Homo sapiens: one gene and its partners. The protein of the gene in region 3 interacts with the protein of the main gene of each other region in a biochemical or structural test. Each region holds a gene or a part of one and is shown on either strand. Other genes may lie near its edges.

Region 1 (2,817 bases), on a different chromosome or scaffold from region 3:
GGCAGCCCTCACCTCTGAGGACAGAGGCCGGGGTCCAGGCCCGTGGGCGCAAAGGTGCCTCATAGCATAGCCAGCATTCAGCACACACAAACCTACTGCCCACATTTGGGCTCAGGGTTGGCCATTTGCTAGTTCTGCTGCCCTCTTAAGATCTGACTGCCAAATAAATCATCCTCATGTCCTTTTTCCTTTGACTTGTATGCTCTTTCGGGGGCTCAGGAAAGCCTGTTGCATGGGACATGCTCACTAGAAACAGTCGCCAGATGATTATTCTGCAGTAGAAGCAGGTAGGAAATTTCTGGAAATTTCTCAGGTTAAGCAGCAAGAGCTGTAACCCCTCCTCTGGGCTAACAGGAGTTGTGGGTCCACTCTCTCCTGCCCACCCTCTGAGGGTGTGTCTGAGCAGAGTACATCCTGCCTGGGTTCTTTGTGGCCAGCCAGTTTTGGTGGTGAGCTGGAAACAACCAGAGCCCCTTTCCAGTTCCACAGAAACCTCTCCTTTCAAAAATGTTGCATTCAGTTCGTTAACACTGCCAGGTGCCATTCTGATTGCCTCTAGGACTTGGCAGCTGAAATCTCTGGGCCCTTTCAACACAGTTGAAAGGCCCTTCTCTTCCTGAAGCTCTGTTTCCATAGTTGGCTGTGCTGGGATGGAACAAAAATGACGCCACACAAAAAATTTAAGATAGATCCGGTTCCGTGGATGACATGAACTGATGATAGCCAGTATCAAACAGCGATAGTGCTCAGGTTCTTGTGTGACTTTCTTTTACAGCTTCACAGTCCCAGTTCATAGAGAGGAGGGTGGCTTTTTCCCATACACAAGAAGGTGGTGGGTGGGAATTCACCTGGGCCCTCATGATCCATGTTTCCTCTCTAGGTTTTTATGGCCTGGAGAGAAAGGTTTCCTATCAGAGAAGGAAGAGGACTGTGTAGGCCCTTCTGTTAGGGCCCATCCACGTTGGTTAGGACGTCCTTGGCGTGTTTGTTAGTGTTGACCCTTTTAGTTTTCATCAATACGTATCTCTATTTGCTGAACAAGTGTCTTTCTGGAACACAACCTGGGGAACAGACAGCTCTGCCTTTCTTAAGGCAGCTTTGTAGACCTGAGGCTCACCTCTCTTGGGCTCTGTAAGACATTGCCTTTGCCTCACTGCAAATGTTTTGATTGTTCTTCCTAGTGGAAAACGTGCCAACTCTCAAGCAAATTTAAAGATCATTTTCACTTCAAGATTCCTCCAGACCTGACAAATGTTGATTGACCCAGAAGGCAGAGTGTTTGTTGGTGGGGAAGACCCTTACTTGGGGCCGAATGCTTTGGCATCAGGAGTTGTTTGCCCCATCCCATGCATGCAGGCCGTGTCCCTACAGTGCGACAGCTCAGGGTTATGACCTGTGGAGTCTCAACCCTAACAGCACATTAGCACCACTTGGGGAGCTTCTGAAAAATACTGGTACCCGGGGCCTTAGCATAGGTATTGTTCAAAACCTCTCAAGGTGATTTAAATGAGTAACAAGGGTTGAAAAACCCTGATTTTGGCAGCACAAACCAAAAGAGCAGGCAGGGCCGGGAGAGGGAAGTCAGTGGTACCAGAAGGTAGATGGGCTCCCTTGCAGGCTCCTTGTTCTCCTGCCATCACCAGTAGAACCTTCTGGCTGACAGACCAGGGACAAGTAGACTGGGTTCAAAGTGACAGACCTTTCACTTTCAACAGCTTTGGCTCAGCAGACATGTACACATACAAAGTAGAGCCTACAAGGTCAGGGGCATTCTGCCCCCGCCACAGGACTAAAGACTGCCCTGCGGGAAGATGGCAGGAGCAGTTTCTGACCTCAGTTGAGTATCTGTGGCCATGAGCAGAAAAGGCAGGGGTCTGCCTCCTGACCAAGCACATCTTGAACATCACCTGAGAGCTTGAACATCACTAAGGACCTAGACACTCACTTGTCTTTCAACTTGAGCCCATCACTCACCATGTGAGTTCTGTTGAGGGTGGGTAGAAAGCAAATAGGTTCAGGTTATCCCACCAGACTAACTCGGTGAATGAAAGGATCATGCCTTCTTCACATTTTAATTAAATGGATCAAGCACAGTCTCAGACTGCAACTCCTGTCTTCTCTGGGTACTTTAGTAATTCCCAGGGGACTTGTGCTTAGGGGTTAATCTAGGCATTCTGTTCCCTGCCTGGAGGAACCCCACAGCAACCCCCCTGGCTGGCCGCTCCTGCGAATTCCACCCATAGTATCCCAAGTGAGTCACTGCCTGAGTCTACCCACTACAGCATTCAGCTGATTGGCTTTGCCAGTTGCATGCCAGTTTGGTCTAGTTTCCAAGGACCTGGTTTTTGGGATTCAACACACACAGCTGCTTCCCCATGACATAAGCTGGACTCCTATTCTGGTGTCCAGAATCACTGCCTGGCTCCACTGTAGGTGATTTCATTTCAAAGGACCCTTTTTCCTTCTGTCCCAGGCCTTCAGGGCCACCCCAACAAAATTCAAATGCTTTGGGTCTTAGAAGCTGGGGCTTTAGTCTTTTTCCTCCAGAAAGCCCCTGGGTCCTTATGCATATTCCCTAACCCCCGACACCGCCCCAGCAAATGACAGGCTATGCTTTTCAGCACTCTCACAGGAAACAGAAAAGAACTTGCCAGTGTCCTCTCACCAGATGATACCAGGTTTGACTGTTTGCCTTTGTCTATTTAGCATAATTTCTAAAATATCATAGTTTTCTCATGTAGAAGCCAGTGTGGTGATCTCAGCAATGCAGAAGACAGTGAGTTGGAACTTCTCTGGTGAGCTGAGGGAAACTGCCCC
Region 2 (3,833 bases), on a different chromosome or scaffold from region 3:
ACAGAAGTAGCTGGTACAAAACAATAGCAATAAGTTCATAATACATCTGAATGAGTTCTACTCTGCAAAAGCTAGTAATGCTCATTAAATATGTCACATCAATAACAAACAGAATGGGCAGTGGATCCTCAGCTCCTACTATTTCAGAAGCAGGATTTTATCCGCCATAAAAGGATTTATATTTCAGTTTCAGAGAGGGTAAAAGAATTAACAATTCATAAGTAAGTCAGTAAAATGACTAGAAAAGTCAGTTTTTGAAAAGCACTGCATGAGTACTAATGTTTTGATAGTTTTGATAAACAATCAAAAGTATATTAATGAATAAATATTATTTTAGTACTGGACTCCTGTAGCCTGCAGTTTGCTCACACAATTAATGCCATATTTATGAAATGCCCCCAAGTCTTTAAAAGTTTTATCTTTAGCTTCTAGTACTGTGTCTGGCACATATTAGAAGGACAATAGCATTTGTTTAACGAATGATAAGGGAATTATTGGGATACTCAAAGGTATAATCTCCATTGTTACATTTCTTAAATGCTAGAAAATACTACTATTTTTTTAAAAACCCACTGAGAGAAAAAAAATTACTAGACTTTACAAATAAAAAAAAAATCCTCTAATATTTGAGTCTGTGTTCTAAAGACAACCCCAGAAATTCTGTTAGTTACGCTTTGAATTTTGGCCTAAAATGAGAGTATTATAATTCTCATTAATTTAATCTCCCCTCATGAGGAGGATTACTTTAAATGAGACTGAAGGAACCCAATGTCAAGGTAAAGACAGTGCAACCCAATTTAATGCAGAGACAGGGTTTCTTAATAGCAGCACCACTGACAGACTATACATTGTTTGTTGTGCAGCCAGCCCTATTCATTATAGAATGTTCAGTAGCATTCCTGCCCAGCTCAGACAACCAAAAATGTGTCCAGAAATTGCTAATATCCCCCAGAGGACAGCACTGTCCCCTGGTGAGAACCACTGTCCTGGAGAGGATAGACTGATTATAGAATTGTGGTATAAACAATTTTCTAAATTTTATTTTAATATTAAAAATGATATATGTTAGCAAGTAGACACCTTATGTACTTTCTCCAGTAATGTTTTAAAGAAAATTATAACTAGTTATATTCAGAAATAAACTAAAATAGTAAATATTAAAAACTGCATCTATTCCATGAAAACTACTAAATATTAAAGTCTGGCGTATTTGGGCTGTTTTCCTCAAATATCATTAATTTGCTATCACTGTATTTTGTAGGAAAGGACAAGAGCAGACAACCCAACCAAGATCATGGCTTAAAACATACCTGCTCAAAGAAAGGTTTTATGGCAGAAAAGGCTGCCTGAGCTGTCCAAGAAAGTTTCAAATTAGGGGTCTCTTCTATCCTTGAAATATCTGTCTACTCACTCCTCAGGAATAACAAATATAATTATGTAATGATATAATGTACTCTCATTAGTATACAGAGATCATGTGTGTACACTTTTTTCCTTGTTTTTAATGTATCTTCTTTTTTCTTCATGTGTATAAATCTTATATGAATTTTTATATAAATAAGGGAGGTAATTGGATAATTTCTCTAGTGGTACAGATTTGCTGGAATCCTAAAACGATAGATTCAATTCTGTGTTAAGGTGGTAAACAAATTACAAAATTTAATTTCCATGATATTTTCCTTTCACTTACCTTGATAAGATATCTAGTTATATCCCTCCCAGCAATATCCAGTCTCCTGGTAAGATGAGGGAGAGAAAAGCCTTCATATACTGGGCAAATGTGAGTCACACCATCTCCAGAGTCTACCACTACACCAGTCAATAAACCTGCATAAAAGCCAGGGGGATTTAAATAAAAAGTCAAATCAGGAAAACCAAAGCCAGCGAGTTCCAAATACAGTAGGGAAGCCAAAACAGAAACGTAACCAACTAGAAGCCAGAATTTATTATTTAGTTATTTTGCAGTTTGTTTCTAATGCATAAGTATTAAAGCGAGTGTTCTCTTTTAAGACTTTTAGTCTACTATTATGTGCTGTCCAAGGAGATGAGAAGAAACAGACCCTGAGACTGAGGACTGAAAAACAGGACTTTTTTTTCCTTTTTTTTTTTGAGACAGGGTCTGGCTCTGTCACCCAGGCTGGAGGAGTACAGTGGCTCAATCTAGGCTCACTGCAATCTTCATTTCCTGGGTTCAAGTCATACCTCCCACCTTAGCCTCCTGAGCAGCTGGGACTACAGGCATGCACCACCATGCCTGGCTAATTTTTGTAATTTTTTTGTAGAGACAGAGTTTCGCCATGTTGCCCAAGCTGGTCTCGAACTCCTGGCCTCAAGTGATCTGTCTGCCTTGGCCTCTCAAACTGCTGGGGTTACAGGCGTGAGCCACCACACCCAGCAGAACACGTTCTTAAAGCTCTGTACAATTCTTTATTTTTTTCAACTTAGATAGTTTTGAATATACTACAAATAACATATACTGTGTGTTCTGGAAAAATGCCTATTGATACTAGACAGCTAGAAATCTAAGAAAAATTAAACATGGCTAGCCAAAGCATCACTTTGATTATTCACTGGAACTTATAATAAAAGGCAATGTCAGTTAAACCTCATAATAAAAGAACAGCAAAGAAGCTGCTTTGTTTCCCCTGTTTCCTCAACCTCCTGGGCTCAAGTGATCATCTCACCTCAGCCTCTCAAGTGGCTGGGATTATAGGCATGTGCAACCACACCCAGCTAATTTTACTTTTTATAGAGATAGGGATCTCACTATGTTGCCTAGGCTGGTCTCAAACTCTGGAGATACAGCAATTTGACCACCTTGGCTTCTCAAAGTGCTGGGATTACAGCCATGAGCCACCATACCTGGTCAAAAAAACTTTTTTTATTTATTTTTATTTACATATTTTTTTTGAGACAGAGTCTCACTCTGTCGCCCAGGCTGGAGTGCAATGGCACAATCTCAGCTCACTGCAACCTCTGCCTCCTGGGTTCAAGCGATTCTCCCGCCTCAGCCTCCCAAGTAGCTGGGATTACAGGCACATGCCACCATGCCCAGCTAATTTTTTGTATTTTTTTTTTAGTAGAGACGGGGTTTCACAGTGTTAGTCAGGATGGTCTCGATCTCCTGACCTCGTGATCCACCCACCTCGGCCTCCCAAAGTGCTGGGATTACAGGCGTGAGCCACCACACCCGGCCTAAAACTACCTCCTTTTTAAGTGGATATAATTCCTTGATGCAATAAGCCTCATAAAACTCATATACAGCCCTTGAATGTTGTACTCTTTTAAAAAGAAGAGGATTTCCATTGCAAAAAAGAAAAAAAAAAGGAGGAATTCACACCATCATCAATTCAAAAATACTCCCAGGAACACTGACTAATGCAAGAATTTACATTTTATTTCCCAAAGAGCCCTCCCTACCCACCTCACCTTATTTTCTACCACTTCCATCAGGTCACACACATACTGGCCTTTCTCCAAACACACTTGACCCATTTCCAGTGCCACACTCTTTTCCCACTGGATTATCCCCTGAAGTGCCTAAAAGACTCCTTGGCACATATCTGACAGGCCCAGACATTCTCAGTAAGTTCCTGTTGAATTTATAAGACCATAAAAAAAAAAAAGAGCTCTCCCAACGTGGCCAATATTTTATTTCCAATAAAGAGGGAGGCAGTTGCTAATGGCAATATCAAGAGAATATATAAGTAGTCCCCTCCATTAAACCCACCTCAAAAGTTAGAAATGCACTCCCAAATGTTTACCTTCTCCTTTTTAATCTACTATATATTTGACAGGCATGATTTTATGCTACCTTTTTGAATCTCTGCGTA
Region 3 (3,600 bases):
TCTCCCTGGGGCTGGCGACAGTGGACATCCAGAACCCTGACATCACGAGTTCACGATACCGTGGGCTCCCAGCACCTGGACCTAGCCCAGCTGATAAGAAACGCTCAGGGAAGAAGAAGATCAGCAAAGCTGATATTGGTGCACCCAGTGGATTCAAGTGAGAGCCACTCCCCAGTGGACCCACAGATTCCTGGGGGCAGAGGGGCACATGAACAAGTGGACAGCTGAGTGAATGGAAGGATGGGCAGATGGGCAGATGGCTGGGTGGCTGAGTGGGTAAATGGGTGGTTGGATAGGTAGGTGCAGGGCTGGGTCTAGGGAGAGGTAAATAAGGCACCAAGGGTACAAAATTTAAGGAGGCACTCACTCTCAGAGGCATGCAACTGTAATTCCTGACTCTCAGAGTGAGTGACTCACTTAAATTTTGCACCCTAGGCACCTTACTTGCCTCACCCTGGGCCCACTCTGGGTGGGCTGTTAGGAGAGCAGGTGGGTGGGCAGGTGAACAAATGGATAGATAGATGAGGTAGATGATGGATGAGAAGGGCTGGTGGGTAGGTGGGTGAGTGGATGGGTGGATGGATGGATAAATGAATGGATGAATGAATGGGTTGAAGAATGAATGGATAAGTGGTTGGATGGACAAGTTTATGGGTGGATGGGTTGATGGGAGGTGCGTGGATAGATAGATGGGTGAGTGGATAGGTGTGTGGACAGATTGATATGCAGGCTGATTGGCTCACAGACAAGGTGGATGGGGATGGACAGGTGGACAGATACGTGGATGAATGGACAGTTCAATGGATAAGTGAACAGAAGTGTGTGGTTGCATGGGTAGAAAAATGAGTGGATGGATAGATGGAAAGGTGGGCACATGGGTAGGTGGATGGGTGGATGGACAAGTGTGTGTGAGGACAGACTGGTGGACAAATGGGTGAACAGACATATGTGGGCAGATAGTTGCAGAGACAGATGTATGGACAGATCAGTAGTCCAACAGATGAATGTGAATGAATAGGTGGACAAATGCATGGGATAGATGGGGAAAGAGGGATGGGTGGATGGATCAGCACCACAAACTATGGAGCCCTTCTAATTCCATAACTCCTGCCTATACTCATTCACTCATTCAGTCTCATTCATTAATTCTGGCCCCTCAGAGTCTCTTTGGGCAGGAGAGGGCAAGAGGGTTTCACTATGAAGGGAGGGAAGGAAGGGCAGTGAGGATTCACTGGAGTCTCTTCACCTCTCCCAGGCATGTCAGCCACGTGGGGTGGGACCCCCAGAATGGATTTGACGTGAGTAACTTCAGAGTCTCTTGGACTCCACTAAACTTCCACCCACCCTTCCAAAGACCACTGCTGAGACCCCACCCCCAGATCGTGCCCTTCCCACACCCCTCTCAGATCCCTTGCTGGGATGGACCCAACGACAATCCATGTCGCTTGTCTCCTCGCCTTATTCCTCTACTCCTGCCCCTGGCCTTTTTCCTCCTGGGCAGGTGAACAACCTCGACCCAGATCTGCGGAGTCTGTTCTCCAGGGCAGGAATCAGCGAGGCCCAGCTCACCGACGCCGAGACCTCTAAACTTATCTACGACTTCATTGAGGACCAGGGTGGGCTGGAGGCTGTGCGGCAGGAGATGAGGCGCCAGGGTGAGACCCTGCTTCCATACGCTCCCTTCTCTAGCCCAAGCAGCTCATAGCTAAGATACGCACTAAGTCACTCAGTCCTTATGGGAGCACCTATACTGCTTCAGTCAGGAGTTGGTCAGTGGGGGTACCCATTTTACAAATGAGCAAAACTGAGGCTCAGAAGAAATCAATGAGAGTTACAGCTATGTGTTATACCCCCTCCACAGAGCCACTTCCGCCGCCCCCACCGCCATCTCGAGGAGGGAACCAGCTCCCCCGGCCCCCTATTGTGGGGGGTAACAAGGGTCGTTCTGGTCCACTGCCCCCTGTACCTTTGGGGATTGCCCCACCCCCACCAACACCCCGGGGACCCCCACCCCCAGGCCGAGGGGGCCCTCCACCACCACCCCCTCCAGCTACTGGACGTTCTGGACCACTGCCCCCTCCACCCCCTGGAGCTGGTGGGCCACCCATGCCACCACCACCGCCACCACCGCCACCGCCGCCCAGCTCCGGGAATGGACCAGCCCCTCCCCCACTCCCTCCTGCTCTGGTGCCTGCCGGGGGCCTGGCCCCTGGTGGGGGTCGGGGAGCGCTTTTGGATCAAATCCGGCAGGGAATTCAGCTGAACAAGGTGAGGACAGGCAGGATGGAGGATTGGGGGTCTAGGACTCTGGGGTGTCCCGTCTAAGTCAGGATACTGGGGGGCTGAGGCCAGGACTGAGGAGAGTGCCAGGCCTTAGGGATTCAGTGATAGGGTTGAAAGGTTGGTGGGAAGCCTTGAAGGGGACTGGAGTGTGTGGGAGAGAAAATATTGATGGAGGGGCGGGGAGAAATGCTCCTTTCCCAGGCCCTAAGCCCTCTGTGCTGATCCCTGCCTGCTGCAGACCCCTGGGGCCCCAGAGAGCTCAGCGCTGCAGCCACCACCTCAGAGCTCAGAGGGACTGGTGGGGGCCCTGATGCACGTGATGCAGAAGAGAAGCAGAGCCATCCACTCCTCCGGTGAGCTGATCCTGCCGGGGCCTCAAACCTGGCTCCCAGGGCTAGCACTGGCCTCAAAACAATCCCAGCAGTCACCACCAATAGTGACATCAGCCCCATCTGTTTGACAGCATTAACATGAATCTTGTGTCAGCCTCGTTTTTGACAATGTTAACATTAAGTCATTATGTGACAATAATATAATTAACTCCAACTTTGACAGTAATATTAACATTAATGCCAGGGTGTGTCCACAATATTAATGTCATTCCCACATGTTCAGTACTATTAACATCAGCTGGCCGGCGCGGTGGCTCATGCCTGTAATCCAGGAACTTTGGGAGGCTAAGGCAGGAGGATCACTTGAGCCCAGGAGTTCGAGACCAGCCTGGGCAATATAGTGAGACCTCGTTTCCATAAAAACTAAATTCAAAAAAAGTAGTCAAGCATAGTGGTGTGTGCCTGTGGTCCCAGCTACTTGGGAGGCTGAGGTGGGAGGATTGCTTGACCCTGGGAGGTCAAGGCAGCAGTGATCCATGATTGTGCCACTGCACTCCAGCCTGGGTGACAGAGATCCTATCTCAAAAAAAAAAAAAATTAACCCATTATGTGATGACAATATTATGAAGAACACTATTGTTGACAATATTAATTTTAATTCCATGTATTAACAGATTTACATTAATTCATTATGACGTAACCTAATCTAATCTTTTAAAAAATTTTTTTGAAACAGGGTCTCGCTCTGTGTCCCAGGCTGGAGTACAGTGGTGCAATCATGGCTCAGTGCAGCCTCAACCTCCCAGGCTCAAGCGATCCTCCCGCCTCAGCTCCCAAAGTAGCTGGGACTACAGGCGTGTGCCACCATACCTGGCTAATTTTTGGTGTTTTTTTGGTAGTGATGAGCTCTCACTACCAAGCTCTCACTACTCTCATGTTGCCCAGGCTGCTCTGCAACTCCAGGGCTCAAGCGATCTGCCCCGCC

Evidence for each region.
Region 1: the proteins of WAS (region 3) and PLCG1 form a complex in vitro, tested with the Homo sapiens proteins (2 studies listed by BioGRID).
Region 2: the proteins of WAS (region 3) and ACTR2 form a complex in vitro, tested with the Homo sapiens proteins (one study listed by BioGRID).

Annotation. Positions count from the first base shown.
Region 1 is NC_000020.11:41,175,534-41,178,350, forward strand, and holds the end of PLCG1 (1-phosphatidylinositol 4,5-bisphosphate phosphodiesterase gamma-1), read left to right. Parts: 3' UTR 1-2,093; downstream 2,094-2,817. UniProt on the Homo sapiens protein: Mediates the production of the second messenger molecules diacylglycerol (DAG) and inositol 1,4,5-trisphosphate (IP3). Plays an important role in the regulation of intracellular signaling cascades.
Region 2 is NC_000002.12:65,251,722-65,255,554, reverse strand, and holds part of ACTR2 (actin-related protein 2), read right to left. Parts: intron 1,828-3,833; coding exon 1,691-1,827; intron 11-1,690; coding exon 1-10. UniProt on the Homo sapiens protein: ATP-binding component of the Arp2/3 complex, a multiprotein complex that mediates actin polymerization upon stimulation by nucleation-promoting factor (NPF).
Region 3 is NC_000023.11:48,686,799-48,690,398, forward strand, and holds part of WAS (actin nucleation-promoting factor WAS), read left to right. Parts: coding exon 1-157; intron 158-1,255; coding exon 1,256-1,298; intron 1,299-1,501; coding exon 1,502-1,655; intron 1,656-1,861; coding exon 1,862-2,268; intron 2,269-2,521; coding exon 2,522-2,636; intron 2,637-3,351; coding exon of another isoform or gene 3,352-3,600. UniProt on the Homo sapiens protein: Effector protein for Rho-type GTPases that regulates actin filament reorganization via its interaction with the Arp2/3 complex. Important for efficient actin polymerization. Possible regulator of lymphocyte and platelet function.